Homo sapiens: one gene and its partners. The protein of the gene in region 1 purifies or fractionates together with the protein of each later gene. This does not show direct contact. Each region holds a gene or a part of one and is shown in the gene's direction. Other genes may lie near its edges.

Region 1 (5,120 bases):
AAAATCATCAGTAATGCCATTTCCCCCTAATTCTCTTCTGTTTTCTATTCCTTTCCTCATGCCCTATTCTTTCTTTACAGCAGTGCTTTTAGACGTTGCCTAGCTCTAGAGAAGATTTCCAAAGTCAAATGTTTTTTTGTGTGTGTGTGTGTGTGTGTGTGTTTTCTTTTTGAGACAGAGTCTCACTGTCGCCCAGGCTGGAGTGCAATGGCACAATCTCGGTTCACTGCAACTGCTGCCTCCTGGGTTTGAGCAATTCTCCTGTCTCAGCCTCCCGAGTAGCTGGGATTACAGTCACATGCCACCACACCCGACTAATTTTCTTTTTTTCTTTTCTTTTCTTCTTCTTTTTTTTTTTTTTTTTCTTTTGGAGACAGTCTCGCTCTGTCGCCCAGGCTGGAGTGCAGTGGTGCGATCTCAGCTTATTGCAACCTCTGCCTCCCGGGTTCAAGCAGTTCTCTGCCTCAGCCTCCTGAGTAGCTAGGATTACAGGTGCCCTACCACCACCACACCTGGCTAATTTTTTTGTATTTTTAGTAGAAACAGGATTTCACCATCTTGGCCAGGCTGGTCTTGACCTCCTGACCTCGTGATCCACCCACCTCGGCCTCCCAAAGTACTGGGATTACAGGCGTAAGCTACCATGCCTGGCCCAGTTTTTGTATTTTTAGTAAAGATGGGGTTTCACCATGTTTGCCAGGCTGGTCTTGAACTCCTGATTTTAGGTGATCCACCCACCTCAGCCTCCTAAATTGCTGGAATTATAGGTTTTTTTTTTTTTTTTTTTTTTTTTGTATTTTTAGTAGAGATGGGTTTTCACCATGTTGGCCAGACTGGTCCTGACCTCAGGTGATCCACCTTTGTCGGTCTCCCAGGTGTGCACCACCACACCAGGCCTTGGCTCCTACTTTGAAATGCAATCTTGTTTGTTTGGAGACAGAGTCTCCTCTGTCACCCAGGCTGGAGTGCAGTGGTACAATCACACCTCATAGAAGCCTCCAGCTCCTGGGCTTAAGTGGCCCTCCTGCCTCAGCCTCCCAGGTGGTTGGGACTGCAGGCAAGCACCTCCATGACTGGCTAATTTTTTTTTATTTTTAGAGACAAGATCTCCTGTTGCCCAGGCTGGGTTTGAACTCCTGACCTCAAGAAGTTCTCCCTCCTTGGCCTCCCAAAGTGCTGAGATTAAAGGCTTGAGCCACTGCACCCAGACTGAAATACAGTTTTAATTTCTTTCACTCTTAATTAGTTATCTTACTCCACAGATCTCAGTAAAATTGGCTCTTTGAGTTTCCCTCGCACCCTCTGATGTAGGTGTTAATAAGAGCAGGTCAATGGCACATAGGACAAGAAGAAAGAGTGTCAATCCTTGAAATGTTGACAAATTCCATTCAGGCCTAGGAGCATGTAATTGTAGGAGTCAGCATTATTGGCTCTGTTGGGTATATGTGATCTCAAAGATTGACCTTTTTTTCCATCTGTTTTCAGATCTGTTACCATTGGGATGATAACCTGAGGACCCCCACTGGAAATCTCCCATCTTTTGAAAAACCTGGAAGTGAGGAGTGTGCACGGATGCTGAATGTTTGGGAATGAGAGGATGAGTGAGTGAGGCTTGAAAACACACCACATTGAAAATCCTGCCACAGCAGCAGCCGCAGCCGCCAACAGCAGCGCTGTTAGTGAGCTAAGTAAGCACTGACTTCGTAGAAAACCATAACATCGGCCATCTTGGAAAAGAGAAAAACAATGGAGTTACTTATTTAAAAAAAAAGAAAGAAAGTTATCTCTTCCCAGGAGAGGCTAGAAGTAGCTTTTCTGTCTTTTGGCCAGTGCCGAGTGGAATGCCTGGTTTGGGGGAGGAGGAGGGACTGGGTTCAGCTGTGGTGCTTTGTTGTAAAAGGCAGCCTGGCCTTTGCTACTGAGGAGAAAGATGGAGCCTGGGTCTCAAGCCCACCTTCGCTGTACCTTTGCCACATGGTACTGTATGCTTGCCAGCTAGAAGGAGGGTCAGGGATTTTTTACAGTCTGAGAATGAGTGTGTGTGAGTGAGGCGGTATCCACATTCTCAACTTCAAGTCATTGCAGTTTCTTTTTCCCAGAAAACAAGGGGTTAGATGTTGCATTTCATAAAACTAACCGAAGTTTTGTTTACTGATGCAGCACAAGAGATGTAAAAAAAAAAAAAAAAAAAAAAAAAAAAACACACACACAGAGGAAAGACGCTCTTTAGGTTTTGTTTTGTTTTTTTTTTTTGGTTTTGTTTTTTGTTTTTTTTACTCTAGGGAAAACACTGACGAATGGTCAGAGCTCCTATCCTGATCTTTTCATCAAGGCGCCTTTCCTAATAATATGGTTCAACTGTGAATGTAGAAGTGGGGGGGAGGGGGGAGAAAAAGAAAACTCTGGCGTTAGAGGATATAGAAAAATATAAGTACAATTGTTACAAATAACGCAGACTTCAAAAACAAAAAAATCACAACCCAAACAAACCAAAATTTAAATGATCAGAATTGGCAGCACAAAGAAAACGCCCTCTCCTGACTTGTATTGTGGCAGTCTGAACGCCCCCAGAAAATTGTGCCAAAGAGTTTAGAAAAATAAATATACAATAAAAGTAAACACATACACACAAAACAGCAAACTTCAGGTAACTATTTTGGATTGCAAACAGGATAAATTAAATGTTCAAACAATCTGATAAAATAACCATTTGGAAACTGCTTGGCCTTCTGTTCTTTTATTTGATTGACTACAATGCGGTATTGGTCTCTTGCTGCACTTCAAAAGCAACCAACAAAACAAAAACAAAAAAAAGTGTGTGTTGTGTGAATACACACACACACTAACTAGAAGTCTTGTGATGAAAATGGCACTTGGAAAAGGTTTTATTTTTCCACTGAAGTTGAAGGTTAATAAAATGGTGTCAAACGTCCCCTGGTCACACACTTGAATATTTTTTTAGAAGTGTGATGTGGTATGATTACCATAAATCAGACTTAATTATTTTCCCTTTTACAAGGGAACAGGGCATCCTGAATTTTAGAGCCTTTCAGCAATAAGAAGGGATGTTGGTGAGCTTTGATCCTCTTTTGGTTTTGCAGTTGTTAGGAGTTTTTGCTGGCATTTTGAATATGCTGCTTTCAGAAAAACCAAGGAAGTTTTAAAATTGCTTCCTGGTCCTTAGAGGACTAAAAACAAGACCCTCATTCCCACTTTCATTTCCACTCTAGCAAAAACTGGGCTTGCGTTTTTCTCCAACTCCTCGTTTATATCCTCCCTTCCATGTCCAAGCCTTCCATTCCTAAGTGGGATTGGCTCAGTTTTGCCCATCCATATGGCAGCATCTCTAATAGCTCTTGTACAGGGTATCAGATATTGTGCCTTTTGGTGCCAGGTTCAAAGTCAAGTGCCGATCTATGAACCAGTGTACAAAAAAAAAAAAATCCAGGTATTTGAAGGAGAGACGCTCCATTGTGAATAAAGAGCTCATACCAGCTCCTAAGCCCTATTAAGAAGAGGCCTGGTCCTCTAATGCCTTGTTTCCATTTCAGTTGTTCTTTGAGAGACAGAATGATGTACTAACCATTCGTGATTATTAAGATAGGGTTGGGTCAGGGCTTAGGGAGGGGGCAGAAATATTGGGGATAGAAAAAAAATCTGATCATTCCTCAGTGCTACCCATTTCTGTCCTGTGTGGGCTGCTTAGCTAGACAGCAGGAGAATAAAGTACACCGAGAACCATAATGAAAAAACCTTCCGTGTGTTTTGTCATGTTTTGTTCCAGGGAAGCAGTTGATGAGTGCTGTTACTAATGCTTTCTCCCAGATCCATTCAGTGGTGGAGAGGAGGAAAATGGGCTGGTTGGATGTGGTCTTGGTGCCTTGCAGTTACTCTGCACTGGTTATGCATTTAATTCTCCTCTTTTCTAGTTAACCTTTTGCCAGTGGGTTTTCCATAGTCTGGGTATTTGTCCTTATATCAGTTATACCACCTAAGGCAACTGGGTGCAAAATGCATTCTGTTCACTCACTGTCTGGGCCTTCCCCACCCTAGTCTTGGCACATTCCTTCAAGAATGTAGTTACCGTCTGCTTGGGAAGATGTCAGTGCAAATGTGAAGATAATGGGCATCGGACTAGGCTTTGGTTTGCCACAAGTGGCAGCTGCCTGTATCAATTACATTTATTAATTTTGCTTTTCATTTTTCCCAGTTCTCCTCACCCCCCCTTTGTTGAAATGTTGGACTTGCTGTCAGAGGCAACTGTAATATTGCCTTAGGGACTTGTGGAGAAGGGGAATTGCTCAGTGTAGTGTTTTAACTTTCAGAACCAAGCAATCTATTTACTCTTACAAATATTTAAGAAGTGTGTTAGTCCAACTTTAAGAAAAATCCAAACTCATCAGCTTTTGATAGCATCTTGGTTTTTGAAACAACTTCAATCTGTAATTGGCATTCAGAATGCCCTTGGCATGCCAGTCTGTGATGGCATTTAAGACCTGTAAAACACTTGAGCCCAACTCGATTAACCAAAACCGATAACCACCACCTTTATCTTCTAAATAAAGTCCGCTTTATTTTTATTTTCAACATCTTGCTGCTTTTTTTTTTTTTTTTTGTCCCAAATGGTGTCACCTCCATGGAGGTGAAATGGTTTGAAAGTCAGAATGTGTGGTGAGAGGTGTTTGTGTATGTATGTGTGTGGGGAAAAGGAGGGACACACATCTTGAAATGGATATTACATAGTGTAATGTGATATAGATGAAACAGTGTCCTACAAATGAGGTAAGGAAAAAGTATGCATGGAGGATGTTTCGTGTTTGGAGAGTTTGAAGCATTCCTCATCAGTAAAACAGGAATACTGACTAAGGTTGTTCTGCAAATTAAAACATAAAATCTCAGTGTTTACCATTTTTCACTTCAGGTGGGCCAAGCTGGCACCTTGGAGGCCAGGTGGAACTGCAGGCTTGCACTGTGTTTCTGAGTGTTTGTATTGGGACCAGGTATACGGTAATGGGGTTTCTTGTGGGAGCAGTTGCTCCTTCTCTGCCATTTGATGAACTAATTGCATTCTTTTCTCAAATCTCACCTTCAGTGGAGAAATGTTCTCAGTGAATCATTGT
Region 2 (7,033 bases), on another chromosome or scaffold:
GCAAAAGCCTTTACCTGTGGAGTATTATAACACTTTATTATCTATATTGCTTCATAGAAATCCTAAAGTTCTTACGGAGCTTGGGTAGGATAAGTGTTGACAAGATAAATTGATAAGAAATGTAAAAATAGAATAATTAAAGAATCCATGAAATGAGAGTACTTTGTCAATGGAAACATTAGTAAGAAAAGAGCAAAGAATTCATCCTTGCAGTTTGCCCAGAAGGATTGGGACCATTAGGATGGAAAGAACCAACTAAAGAAGAAAGGAATAATCTCAGAAAAAGATGAAAATAGAGCATCTTAGAAGGCAAAGGATGCTACAGAAAAGAGAAAGCAAACTGAGAAATGACTTGTGTTTAGTCAGGAGTCACCCTACTCCTATTTGTTGTGTTCATATAGCAGGCGTTAGGAGCTAGATGGCATTGAAATAATGCTAGGATAAATAGGGAATGGCAGAAAGAACCAAACATTTTTTATCTGAGAAAGGGTGGTTCCTTTCTCATCTTGTCCTCTCAAATGCTCCATTTCTTAACCAAAAATCTTTCAAATTAAAGTCTAACTATCTCAGTATGCTATTAAAATATCCTTTATTTCCCGTTTGCAAAGGCTTAGAGGTAGGAGTGTGCCTGATATGTTTTAGTGAATGCAAGTAGGTAACTGGGTAGAAAAGAATGAGCAAGGGAGATAGATTACATAGAATCCTAAGGACCATCATTATAAGGACATTGGCTTTTACTCTGAAATGAGAGGCCATTAATGGGTGTTTATGTAATCTGATTCATGTTTTAAAAGGATCGCTTTGGAGTCAGGCCTGTAGCCCTAGCTACTCCAGAGGCTGAGGCAGGAAATCTTGAGCTCAGGAGTTTGAAGCTTCAGTGTGCTACAATGGTGCCTGTGAAAAGTCACTGCACTCTGGCCTCGGCCACACATGGAGATCCTGTCTCCTAAAAAAAAAAAAAAGAAAAGGATCAGGTCGGGCACAGTGGCTCATGCCTGTAATCCCAGCACTTTGGGAGGCCAAGGCGGGTGGATGGCGAGGTCAAGAGTTCGAAACCAGCCTGACCAACATGGTGAAACCCCATCTCTACTAAAAATAAAAAAATTAGCTGGGTGTGGTGACACACACCTGTAATCCCACCTACTCAGGAGGCCGAGGCAGGAGAATCGCTTGAACCCAGGAGGTGGACGTTGCAGTTAGCTGAGATCACGCTATTGTACTCCAGCCTGGGCAACAGAGCGAGACTCCATCTCAAAAAAAAAAAAAAAAAAGGATCACTTTGGCTGCTGTGTTGAGAATAGATTATAGGGTGGTATGTATGACATCAGGGAGAGCAGTAAGTAGACTACTGCAATAACTTAGTTGATACTAAAGTATTAAAAGACAAGGGGCCAGATGCGGTGGCTCATACCTATAATCCCAGTACCCCAGGCTAAGGTGAGTGGATCACGAGGTCAAGAGATCAAGACCATTCTGGCCAACATGGTGAAACCCCATCTCTACTAAAAATACAAAAATCAGCTGGGTGTGGCGCGTGCCTGTAGTCCCAGCTACTTGGGCGGCTGAGGCAGGAGAATCACCTGAACCCAGGAGGTGGAGGTTGCAGTGAGCCAATCACACCACTGCACTCCAGCCTGGGCAACAAAGTGAGACTCCGTCTCAAAAAAAAGACAAGGGAAAACTAGTAAAGAACCAAGGAACAATGCAAAGTAATGTAAGAGGATAACCAGAAGAACGTGCTATCCTAGAAACCGAGTAGAAAAGTGCATATCGAGGAGAGACTGATTAACTATGTTAGTCAGTACTGCTTGTTAGATCAAGTATAATAGAGGTGAGAATTTGGACTTCACCACTGTGGAGGTCACTGGTGATCTTGAATAGTTTTGGTGGAGTGAGGTTCAGGGAGTGAAAGATTGGAATGGATGAGTATAATCAAACCCTTAGATATAATTTGTAGTCTGTAGAAAACATGGAGCCTGGAGGAATGAGTAAATAAACAAATACAGCTTGCAAAGACATTCAATAGGAAAACTGACTACCTTTTGTCAGTAAGACAATGGCATGAAAAGAAGAGTGGGGAGGAGGATCTGTTTTAGATGAAGAGATTTAAAAAGACATTCAAATAAAACGTGTTGCTCTTACTTGGTTCTTGATTTAAGTAAACAGATGGTTTAAAAGACCTCTTTGAAACAAATAGAGACGTTTAAATCTGGACCCTGTAATAGATAACAAGGAATTACTGCTGATTTTGTTAAGTGTGATGATGATATCGTGGCTATGAAAGGAAATGTCTTTATTTTATTTTATTTTTATTTTTTGAGACGGAGTTTTGCTCTTCTTGCCCAGGCTGGAGTGCAATGGCACGATCTCGGCTCACCGCAACCTCTGCCTCCCGGGTTCAAGTGATTCTCCTGCCTCAGCCTTCCTGAGTAGCTGGGATTACAGGCATGCACCACCACGCCTGGCTAATTTTGTATTTTTAGTAGAGACAGGGTTTCTCCATGTTGGTCAGGCTGGTCTCAAACTCCCAACCTCAGATGAACCGCCCACCTCAGTCTCCCAAAGTGCTAGGAGTACAGGCGTGAGCTATCGCACCCTTCCAGAAATGTCTTTATTTTTTAGAAGTATATACTAAAGTATTTAGAGATGAAATCTTCTAAGCATAATTTGTTTTAAACAACTGCAGCAAAATGTTCATAATTATTGAATCTTGGTAATAGGTATATGGGGTTCATTATAATTGTGTGTATATTAGAAGTTTTTCATAATTTTGAAAAGAGAGGGAATGTAAAGAGTGTTGGAAATAGGCTGGGCTTGGTGGCTCACACCTGTAATTCCAGCACTTTGGGATGCCAAGGTGGGTGGATCACCTGAGGTCAGGAGTTCAAGACCAGCCTGTCCAACATGGTGAAACCCCATCTCTACTCAAAATACAAAAATTAGCCAGGCGCAGTGGCGCATGCCTGTAATCCTAGCTACTAGGGAGGCTGAGGCAGAATTGCTTGAACTCAGGAGGTGGAGGTTGCAGTGAGCCAAGATTGCGCCACTGCACTCCAACCTGGGCGACAGAGTGAGACTCTGTCTCAAAAAAGGCCAGGCGTGGTGGCTCACACCTGTACTCCCAGCACTTTGGGAGGCCGAGGTGGGTGAATCATGAGGTCAGGAGTTCGAGACCACCCTGGCCAAAATGGTGAAACTCCGTCTCTACTAAAAATGCAAAAAATTAGCTGGGCATGGTGGTGGGCGCCTGTAATCCCAGCTACTCGGGAGGCTGAGGCAGTAGAATCGCTTGAACCCGGGAGGCCGAGGATGCATTGAGCCGAGATCACGCCGCTGCATTCCAGCCAAGGCGACAGTGCGAGACTCTGCCTCAAATAAATAAATAAATAAAAGTGTTGATAGTAGAGATACAGGTAACTCTCTTGAAGAATTTTGCCTTAAATGGGACTAGAAAAATAAGTGCTAGATGAGGATGTAGGTTGGGAGAAATTACCGCATGCTTGTAACTTCATAATGGCAACAATTCAGTAGAGGAAAAAATAGATGAGTAAGAGGATAAGTTGCTGGAAGAATGTCCTTGAGTAGGTGAGAAGAAATAGAGTACATCTATTATAATAAATAGCACCTATAATTGTATTAGTTATCCCAAAACTTAGCAGCTTAAAACAATAAATATTGATTATTTCATACAATTTTTGTGGGTCAGGAACTTGGGTATGGCTGAGCTGGGTGATTCTGAAGATAGCAGCCAAGATGTCATCCAGAGATATATCTGAAGCCTTAACTGAGACTGGAGGATCTGCCTCCAAGATGACTGACTCACATGAACAGCAAGTTGATGCTGGCTTTTGGAAGGAGGCTGTAGTTCTTTGTCATGTGGACATCTCCATAGGACTGCTTGAGTCTTCTTAAGGCCCCACATGGCACCTGGCTTCTCCCAGAGCAAGCGACGCTTCAAGAGAGAGCAAGGCAAACACTACCCTAGTTTTAGAAGTCATATTCCATTATTCCTGTAATACTCTCTTGGTCACACAAGTCAGCCCTATTCAGTGTGAGGGGATGACACAGGGCAAGACTACCAGGAAGTGAGGATCAGTAGAGGGCAGCTTGGATGCTGGCTATCATACAAGTTAATTAATTTAAAAGTGAAGTAATAAATGCCTATTACATAGCAAGCAGTTAATATTTGAACACATGAAGGCAAAATGAATACAAATTTTAAAAGACTAGGGGTTGAAATAACTTGTGGTTAGAGTGCTAAAGAATTAACAAGAAATATTAAAAGCATTTCCCTTTGTGCGGAGAGGTCTTGCTTTGTTACTCAAGCTGAACTTGAACTCCTGGGCTCAAATGATCCTTCCACCTCAGCCTTCCCAGTAGATGGGACTACAGGTGTGTTACTGTGCCTGGCTTATTGAAAGCCTTTTTTTTTTTCTTGAGACGGAGTCTTGCTCTGTTGCTTAGGCTGGAGTGCAGGGGCGCAATCTTGGCTCACTGCAACCTCCATCTCCTGGGTTCAAGCAATTCTCCTACCTCAACCTCCCGAATAGCTGGGATTACAGGTGACCGCCACCACACCCAGCTAATTTTTGAATTTTTAGTAGAGATGGGATTTCACCACGTTGGCCAGGCTGGTCTCAAACTCCTGACCTCAGATGATCCGCCCTCCTCAGCCTCCCAAAGTGCTGGGATTACAGGCGTGAGCCACCGTGCCTGGCCTGAAAGCATTTTTTAGCAGCAGTTGAAATGACACAAAAATAATTGTTTATACATTTGCATAACTTTTCATCTGAAATGTTTTATATACTGTGTGGTTTTGGTTTTTTTTCTGCCTAGGGGCAATGAAAACTATTCTAGGTGATCAACGAAAACAGATGCTCCAAAAATACAAAGAAGAAAAGCAACTTCAAAAATTGAAAGAGCAGAGAGAGAAAGCTAAACGAGGAATATTTAAAGTGGGTCGTTATAGACCTGATATGCCTTGTTTTCTTTTATCAAACCAGAATGCTGTGAAAGCTGAGCCAAAAAAGGTAAATTTAGTGTCTTAATATAAAGGAATAGTTTCTTTTATTTGGTATTTTCTTCAAGACATTAAGTGACTAACCCCTTTCCCTTAGTCTCATTATTAACTGGTTGGTAGAAGGTGGGAATGACATAATAGTAGCTCAGAAGAATGAAAATCAGGTCTCTTAAGATAGCTGTAGGTAAGTTGAGATAGGATAAAACTAGGAAAATTGGTAGAATCAGGCTGAACAATGTTATGCAAAGGATTTGGTGTTTATCCTGTAGGTTTTGCAGAATCAGGAGAAGTTTATAAATAAGGGTAGTGCCGTTGTCAAATTAATAATTCAGGAAAATACCATAGCCCTAAAGATTTTAGTCTGGAAAGGGAAGCATTTATAGATAGGGAGACCAATTGTGAGACTATTGTAATAGAATAGATGGAAAGGGGCAGTGGGTTTTAAAAGGAAAAAATAGGTGTAAGACATCTAAATAAAGGCATTTGACAGGACTGGTGGCCAAGTAGATGGTGAGGGGTAAAGGAAATTGAAAAAGCAGAGAGAAGCTCTGCTGCTAAAAGAGATAAGGAAGATAAGGAACAAGCTTAAGTGGGTGCATGTTAATAACCTTTTTAAAAATCTTAAACTTGTGTGGGCCACCTAGATATTAGTAAAAATTTGGAAAGAAGGATGGAAATTGGTGCTAAGATGTCGATTTAGGATATAATATTGGGAATATGGATGAGTGTTTAAGCTGTAGGACTAAATGAGACCATTCCAATAAGGATATATAAAATTATGAAAAAGTGGGCTCTAGAGAGCACTTTTAGGTAGGCAGAAGCCAGGTACCAGGCTGAGGACTGGTCAGAGAGGCAGGAGAACTAAGAGAGGATAGAAGCTCATATTAATGATGATTCCAATACCTGGAAAATACGGTTTGAAATTTCTTTCTCACTGAGAAATGTGAGTAATTTTTGAAGTTACTAACTTAATTTAAATCAAGCTAGAACCAGAAAAAGGAATTTAAGTATCTTTTTGCTATAAGAGATTAAGGATAAAATTTAACTTTAAAATGGGAACTTTATTTTGTAATAAGATATGGAAGTAAACCTTTACCAGTTCATATTTTAAGTTCATCTTCTTTTGACTGTTCTAAGGCTATTCCATCTTCTGTACGGATTACAAGGTCAAAGGCCAAAGACCAAATGGAGCAGACTAAGGTATAGTTGATAGTAGATAATTGTTACTAAAATGATAAATTGCACTTTTTTAGTAAGTAAATTCATTTTAAATCTAGTATCAGATTCAAACATAATGATTAATTTACTAGAGTTAACAGGTACCAAAGTCACTGTTTTTAGTATGGTGATGTAGAGCAATTTCACTTAAAATATTTGCTCCAACATTCCGTATGAGATCCATGGCAAACTGTCTTTGTGTCACACTCTTGTTTTGTTTAGTGGGCTCCTATTATGCATTCCAAGTTACCTGCATGAAATGCATATGGGGAGGAAAGCACACAGGGTAGGTGTTATAAACTTACGGGTCTTCAAAATACTGTAATAGAGATATCAGGAGGGTTACTAAAACAAAGTGAAGTGGGCAAGAAGGGAAATAATATGCCTCTTTATCAGGTGAGGAAGCTAAGTTCCACGTATGCATATATATTTTGCATTGCTATGATGTTCCTGGTGTTGTAGGCTTTTGGATATAATAAACTAAATTCTCTTTGTGGAACTTACATGTAAGGCATTTAAAAAAATACATAATATGCCAGAAGATGATAAGTATTATGGAAGAGATTTTAAAAAGGGGAGATGGGGTGTACTAGAAATAGGTATGGGGTAGAATTTTGATTGGGCAGTTAAGGAAGGCCTCCCTGAGATGAAAGCCTTTTGAGTGAAGTCATTATGGAAGTGGAGAAGAGAACCATGGGAAAGCGCTTTTTATCCAGGAGAAGTATTTTCTAGGCAAAATTAAAAGGTCTTGAAGTGAAAGTATGTCTAGGAGTGTTTAAGGACCTTCAGAAGGCA
Region 3 (7,033 bases), on another chromosome or scaffold:
ACTAGTATATTTGTACTAGTAAAATTTATTTAAATTGTAATGTTTTATTTTAATCAAATCTTGATAATTTTACTAGTATGATATTATTAAAAATAAATTTATGGCCGGGCATGGTGGCTTGCACCTGTAATCCCAGCATTTGGGAGGCCAAGGCAGGTGTCTCACCTGAGGTCAGGAGTTTGAGACCAGACTGGCCAGCATGGCAAAACCCCATCTATACTAAAAATACAAAATTTAGCCAGGCGTGGCAGGGGGCACCTGTAATCCCAGCTACTCGGGAGGCTGAGGCAGGAGAGGAGAATTGCTTGAACCCAGGGAGGCAGACGCTGCAGTGAGCCAAGATCACACCATTGCACTCCAGCCTGGGCAACAAGAGCGAAACTCCGTCTAAAAATAATAATAATAATAATAATAATAATAAATATATAGGAGATAATATTCCCTCTTTTGAGAGACTTCTCTTAATGGTATAGCAATTTGAAGGAGCCAGTTATTAATGTTAGTGGGGCGACTGGTCCTGTTGTCACTCATGCCCTCACTTCCTTTCTTGCGAGCTTAAATTACAAACACTGGCACTATTTCCACTTCCTTGCACCTCCCTATACTCACCTGGCAAAACCCAAGCCTGATTAAACCCAGCTATGTGCTTAATCTTTGCCTATACCTCTGCAGCTAACTCTAGTTGGAGAAAACACCTAACTTTGTTGAGCGAACTTATTTTAAATATGCAACGCTAAACCTTAATATGGGCATTTGATCCTCCTCCTTTTGGTTTTTTTTTTTTTTTTTTTTTGAGATAAGGTCTCGCTCTGTTGCCTAGGCTGCAGTGGCACAATCAGGCCTCACTGCAGCCTCAACCTCTCAGGTTCAAGACATCCTCCCACCTCAGCCTCCTAAGTAGCTGGGATTACAGGCACGTGCCACCACACCTGGCCCATTTTCTTCTTAGTCATGAACTTTCCTACTTTTGAGGATAATTACTTTTTATCATCTTGACTCAACTTGGTTCCCTTCCCTCCCTTGATGACTTTACCTCATAGGTCATGGGAAAATAGATGCAATCAACAGAAAACTGCCTTATCGTTCAACCACCAAATCCCCCCCTTTTTTTCCTTTCCTTTTCTTTTTTTTTTTTTTTTTTTTTTTTTGAGACAGGGTCTTGCTCTGTCAGCCAGCCTGGAGTTCTCTGGAGTGCAGTGGCACAATCAGGACTCACTGCAGCCTCAACCTCCCGGGCTCAAGCAATCCTCCCACCGCAGCCCCCTGAGTAGCTAGGACTACAGGCATGACCACCCTGCCTGGCCAGTGTTTTTTTGAATTTTAGTAGAGATGAGGTCTGACTATGTTGCCCTGTCTGGTCTCCAACTCCTGAGATTCAGCGATCCTCGCGCCTTGGCCTCCCAAAGTGCTGGGATTACAGGCGTGAGACCCTAGGCTTGGCCCCACCACCAAACCTTTTAGCCACCCTGCATCTACATCCACATACTCTGCTTCTTTGCCTGTCTAAGGGCAACCTTTCCATTTATGCTGAAGATCCTGGGCCCTCTTGCTTCCCCTAGGACTACATTCCTACAATTAGAGCCTCTCTCCTCATTAATTTCTCCACTCTGCTAGCTTATTTGCCATAAGGCATGCAATCATGTTTTACTATCACCCATCTTTTAAAAAAATAAAAAAGCCAAAATCCTCTCCTGATCCCATGTCCTCATTCCATCTACTGCCCTATTTCTCTGTTCTTTTCTACTGAAATTGCTTTATTAAGGTCGCCATCTTACAAAGCTTGTGTTCCCTCTCTCCCCTCACCTGTGCCTATCAGTAGCATTTGGCATGATTGAACATTCCCCTCTGCTCCAGGCACTTTCTGTTCTAGGCTTTGATATTTCACGCTGTCCTGCCTTACTAGCACTTCTTTCTAGTCTCCTTGGTTGGTTCTTCATCTGCCAGATCTCTAAATGTGGAGTGCCCCCAGGGCTCTCTTCCTGGTTGTCTTTTCTCTAACTATGCTCTATCCCTCGGTGATCTTATCCACCCCATTTTTTTTTCTTTTCTTTTTTCTTTTTTTTTTTTTTTTTTTGAGTCACAGTCTTGCTCTGTCACCCAGGCTAGAGTGCAGTGGCGCAATCTCGGCTCACTGCAACCTCCACTTCCCAGGTTCAAGCGATTCTCCTGCCTCAGCCACCCGAGTTCCTGGGATTATAGGTGCCTGCCACCATGCCCAGCTAATTTTTTTGTATTTTTAGTAGAGACAGGACTTCACCATGTTGGCCTGGCTGGTTTCAAACTCCTGACCTCAAGTGATCCACCTGCCTTGGCGTCCCAAAGTGCTGGGTTTACAGGCATGAGCCACTGCGTCCGGCCCATTCCCATAAGTTAAAATTTACCCAAAAGCTAATGCCTCCCAAACCCACATCTCCAGTAGGACCTCTCTCTCCCCTGGGATGCTGACTCGTGTATTTAAGTGCATTTTCAACAACACGGTCAGGTCCAAGCATTGACAGTCTCTTCCCCATCTCAGTACATTGTTCAGGCCCAGTTTGGATCACCCTGGATTCCTCTCTTCTTCACCCACAGCCATCCATTCTTGTCAGCACCTCCTCCTAAATAGACCTGAAATCTGACCTCTGGGCACCATCTCCAGCGCTGCAAACCTGTGCCACAGCACTCTCATCTCCTGACCACTGCCTCAGTCTCCCTATTGGGCTTCCTGCCTCAACTCTTACCTCACAATAGTGTTCTCTTGGTAGTTGGAGTGATATTTGAAACTTAGGGAAAAGAAAAAAAAGAGAGAGAGACCAGGCGCCAGGCGCAGTGGCTCATACCTGTAATCCCAGCACTTTGAGAGGCCGTGGTGGGTGGATCACTTGAGGCCAGGAGTTCAAGGCCGGCCTGGCCAGCATGGCAAAACCCCGTCTCTACTAAAAAAAAAAAAAATACAAAAATTAGCCAGGCGTGGTGGCATGTGCCTATAATCCCAACTACTCGGGAGGATGAGGCACGAAAATCCCTTCAACCTGAGAGGTGGAGGCTGCAGTGAGCCAAGATCACGGCACTGCACTCCACCCTGGGCGACAGAGCGAGACTCTGTCTCCAAAAAAAAAAATAAACTTAGAACGTGTCTTTCTGCTCAGTGCCCTCCAATGACTTCCCTCACATCTAAAATAAAATCTAAACTCTTTCCAGTGTAATGAGAGAAACTTAGTTTGACCCTGATTTGGAGGGAAATTTTTTTAAAAAGAAAATAGCTAAAATTGGAGAGAAGGAAATTTCATTATGGGCCACATATTAGGTGATATTAGGAAATTATTGCTTTTCCTGAGTACACTAATGCATTAGAGGATCATGTGGGGAAATCTCTTATTTTTAGGAGATGTGGCTGATATATTTAGTGGTAAAGAATCATGATGTCTGGAACTTATTTTCAAATTCTTTCACAAGAATTATATATTAATATAGAGAAACCAAATATGAGACAATGCAAATGACTATTGAATCTTGGTGGGAAATATGAGTGTTTATTACATTACTTCGACTTTTCTTTTTTTTTTTTTTTTGAGACGGAGTTTCGCTGTTGTTGCCCAGGCTAGAATGCAACGGCATGATCTCAGCTCACTGCAACCTCCACCTCCTGGATTCAAGCAATTCTCTTGCCTCAGCCTCCCAAGTAGCTGGGATTACAGGCATGTGCCACCATGCCCAGCTAATTTTGTATTTTTAGTAGAGACAGGGTTTCTCCATATTGTTCAGGCTGGTCTGGAACTCCTGAACTCAGGTGATCTGACTGCCTCAGGCCTCCCAAAGTGCTGGGATTACAGGCGTGAGCCACCACACCCAGCCTACTTTGACTTTTCTATAGGCCTGACTTTTTTTCTAATAACAATTTAGGGGAAGAAATTAATTTTTTTTCTATTTTTTTATTTTTTTTGAGACAGACTTTCGCTCTTGTCACCCAGGCTGGAGTGCAGTGGTGCGATTCCGGCTCACTGCAACCTCCACCTCCCAGGTTCAAGTGATTCTCCCGCCTCAGCCTCCTGAGTAGCTCAGACTACAGGTGCCCACCACCACGCCCAGCTATTTTTTGCAGACATGGGGTTTCACCCTGTTGGCCAGGCTGGTCTTGAACTCCTAACTTTGGGTGATCTTCCTGCCTCGGCCTCCCAAAGTGCTAGGATTACAGGCATTAGTCACTGTACCTGGCTGAAATTCATAATTTTTGCTGTGGCCTTTACCTCTCTACTTGACCCAGCCTCTGGTCACATCTCTGATCTCCCTGCCCTCCATATACCTCAGTGTTCACCATACTTCTACCATAAGGGCAGTTTCTGTCTTTCAACTCATGAGTCCACCTCAGGGCTCCTGTTCTTGGCGCTCGCTCTGCTCGGAGTGCTCTTCACCTGCTGCCTCTTTCCTCATTCACATCTCGGGAGGCCTTTCCCAGCCATCCTAATTCAGGTAGCATCCCCACCCCACCCCAGTTGCCCAGTTTTATTTTTGCATCATAATACCTGACGTCATATCATTCATTTCTAGCTTTCTTGGGTAACTGTTTCACCTCTGCTAGAAGATCCTGGAGGGCAATCACCTTGTCTGTTTAATTAATCACTCTCTAGTGTCTGGAACAGTGCCCAGCACAATAAATGCTTGTTGAAGGAATGCATGAATATATGCTGATAACTAACATCTGCACCTTCAGCACAACTCTTGAACACCACCTCATATCATTCAACCTCCTCACTGGGTTCTGCCACAGGTGCCTCACTTCATGCATTTTTGTATGTTTGGTGAGATTTTGAAGGTATATTAAGAGAGTATTAGAAAAATCAAGAATGCCTGAATTCTGCCCTGCCAATCATCCCCTTCCCAGAGAAAACCTCAAGGGTGGTTCAAGGAACAAGTAGAAAATAAGGTACCACTTTATTACTAGCTGAAATAGTGCCTGATATCTTGATGCAGAGCATTCTGGTAAAGTGGATTGGAGACTGTGGCTTAGGCTTGCACCACAAGCAAAAGCTTGAGCACAAACCAAATTTCAGGATCTCTGCTATTCTCTACTGGACACATGGCCCATGATAAAAGGCATGAGAAGAATAGAGCCAAGCCTGGTGGCTGGGCCCACCTTGAGAAGGATGGCTGTGGCCCTCAACTGCATGGCTGGGTGGAAGAGGAAGAAAAAAAGAACCCAACCAAAAAACTTGACTTTTGTTTTTTAAACGGAGTCTTGCTCTATCGCCCAGACTAGAGTGCAGTGGCATCATCTCCTCGGCTCACTGCAACCTTCGCCTCCTGGGTTCAAGCAATTCTTCTGCCTCAGCCTCCCAAGTAGCTGGGACTACAGGCACACACCACCATGCCCGGCTAATTTTTGTTTTTTTATTAGAGACGGGGTTTCACCATGTTGGCCAGGCTGGTCTAAAACCCCTGACCTCGTGATCCACCTGCCTCGGCCTCCCAAAGTGCTGGAATTACAGGCATGAGCCACCCCGCTCAACCAAACTTGACTTTTAAAGCACAGGAAAATGTAACCAATCAAATTAACATTGTTCTTTCAGGAAAGAACAAGAAGGGAGGTTTTCCTAGGCTGGGAAGAGAAGCTCAGTGTTCCCTTCCCCCGGCAGAGACCTACAACCATCCCCCTAAGACCCCGTCACCTTTTGCATTCCTCATCTTAGGGACCGTACCACACTTCACCAGCTGTCCAAGCCAGAAACGTTGGCATAACAAAGTTTCCCTCTTCCTCAACTCTCATGTTCACACTGATTTCACTTCCTAAGAAGGTTTTGACTTCATCCATACTGCCTTAGCCCCGCTCCAGTTCAGGCCACAGCATTTCTGGCTCATCCCCATCAAATGCATCTTGCACATTGTGCAGGTAGACTACTCATTCTGAGTAATGCAAAATTGGTCACCCACTGCCTTGCTGCAAACTCTTCAGAGACTGCCCTTTTCTCTGAGAGTAAAGTTCATACTCTTTAAAGGCTTACAAGGCCTGGTAACATCACGGCCCTGCTCACTTTCCCAACATTGTCTCTTACTATCTCCTACAAACAGGTCCATGTTCCAGCCACACTGAACTTAAGTTCTTCAAACTCCACCCTCATTGTTGCCTTGCTGTGCCATTCCTCTACCTCTTTCTCTACCTTCTCTTCATCCTTCAGATCTCAGCAATTAGAGACATCACATCTTTATCTGAGAACTGCCCTGTGCAGATACTTGCTGAAGTCTAACCTAGCAGTCCCAACTTTGATGGCCATGCCTACCTATGTTCTCATGACAGCCTGAGCCTCCTAGCGTGGGCATTTACCCCACTGTATTGCAATTGCCTCTTTCCTTGTCTAACTTTCCCACTCAGATGTGAAATTCCTTAGAGCAGAGACCCATTCTTTCTAAGTAATGGTTCTAGTCCTATGGTCTGACCAGAGTACATTTAATGAATACAAGAACAGCAAAAAATATTCAACGTATCTTCCTTGTTTATTTGACTTTTGGCTCTAATAATAAGGTCTCTCTTGCAGGCAACCAAGTTGTTAAAAGCCTTGAAAGGCTACATTAAACATGAGGCAAGAAAAGGAAATGAGAATCAGGTGAGTAATGTTTTTCATGTTTACCTGTTAGCTAGCAAAATAATCATATTTGGTTAATGGGCAATTAACACACAACTAGTGATGATTTAAGACATGCTGTTGGCCAGGTGTTGTGGCTCACGCCTATACTCCTAGCACTTTGGTAGGCAGTGGCAGGCGGATCACTTGAGTCCAGGAGTTCGAGACCAGCCTGGCCAACATGGTGAAACCCCGTCTCTACTAAAAATACAAAAATTAGCCAGATGTGGTGGCGGGAGCCTGTAATCCCAGCTACTCAGGAGGCTGAGACAGGGAGAATTGCTTGAACCCGGGAGGTGGAGGTTGCAGTGAGCCAGGATCGCGCCACTGTACTCCAGCCTGGGTGACAGAGCAAGACTCCGTTCAAAAAACAAAAAAAAAGATATGCTGTTTATTAAAAAAGAGATCATTATTGGTAATAGTGCCAAGGACTGAAT

What was found. Proteins that work in one complex are often made in the same cells at the same time.
Region 2: the proteins of KPNB1 (region 1) and DLGAP5 purify together in Homo sapiens (affinity purification with mass spectrometry; 4 studies listed by BioGRID and IntAct, with this or other methods). This does not show direct contact.
Region 3: the proteins of KPNB1 (region 1) and NUSAP1 purify together in Homo sapiens (affinity purification with mass spectrometry; 4 studies listed by BioGRID and IntAct, with this or other methods). This does not show direct contact.

What each region holds. Positions count from the first base shown.
Region 1 is NC_000017.11:47,680,919-47,686,038, forward strand, and holds the end of KPNB1 (importin subunit beta-1), read left to right. Parts: intron 1-1,485; coding exon 1,486-1,486; 3' UTR 1,487-4,587; downstream 4,588-5,120.
Region 2 is NC_000014.9:55,181,557-55,188,589, reverse strand, and holds part of DLGAP5 (disks large-associated protein 5), read left to right. Parts: intron 1-4,836; coding exon 4,837-5,030; intron 5,031-6,157; coding exon 6,158-6,220; intron 6,221-7,033. UniProt on the Homo sapiens protein: Potential cell cycle regulator that may play a role in carcinogenesis of cancer cells. Mitotic phosphoprotein regulated by the ubiquitin-proteasome pathway.
Region 3 is NC_000015.10:41,335,877-41,342,909, forward strand, and holds part of NUSAP1 (nucleolar and spindle-associated protein 1), read left to right. Parts: intron 1-6,509; coding exon 6,510-6,578; intron 6,579-7,033. UniProt on the Homo sapiens protein: Microtubule-associated protein with the capacity to bundle and stabilize microtubules. May associate with chromosomes and promote the organization of mitotic spindle microtubules around them.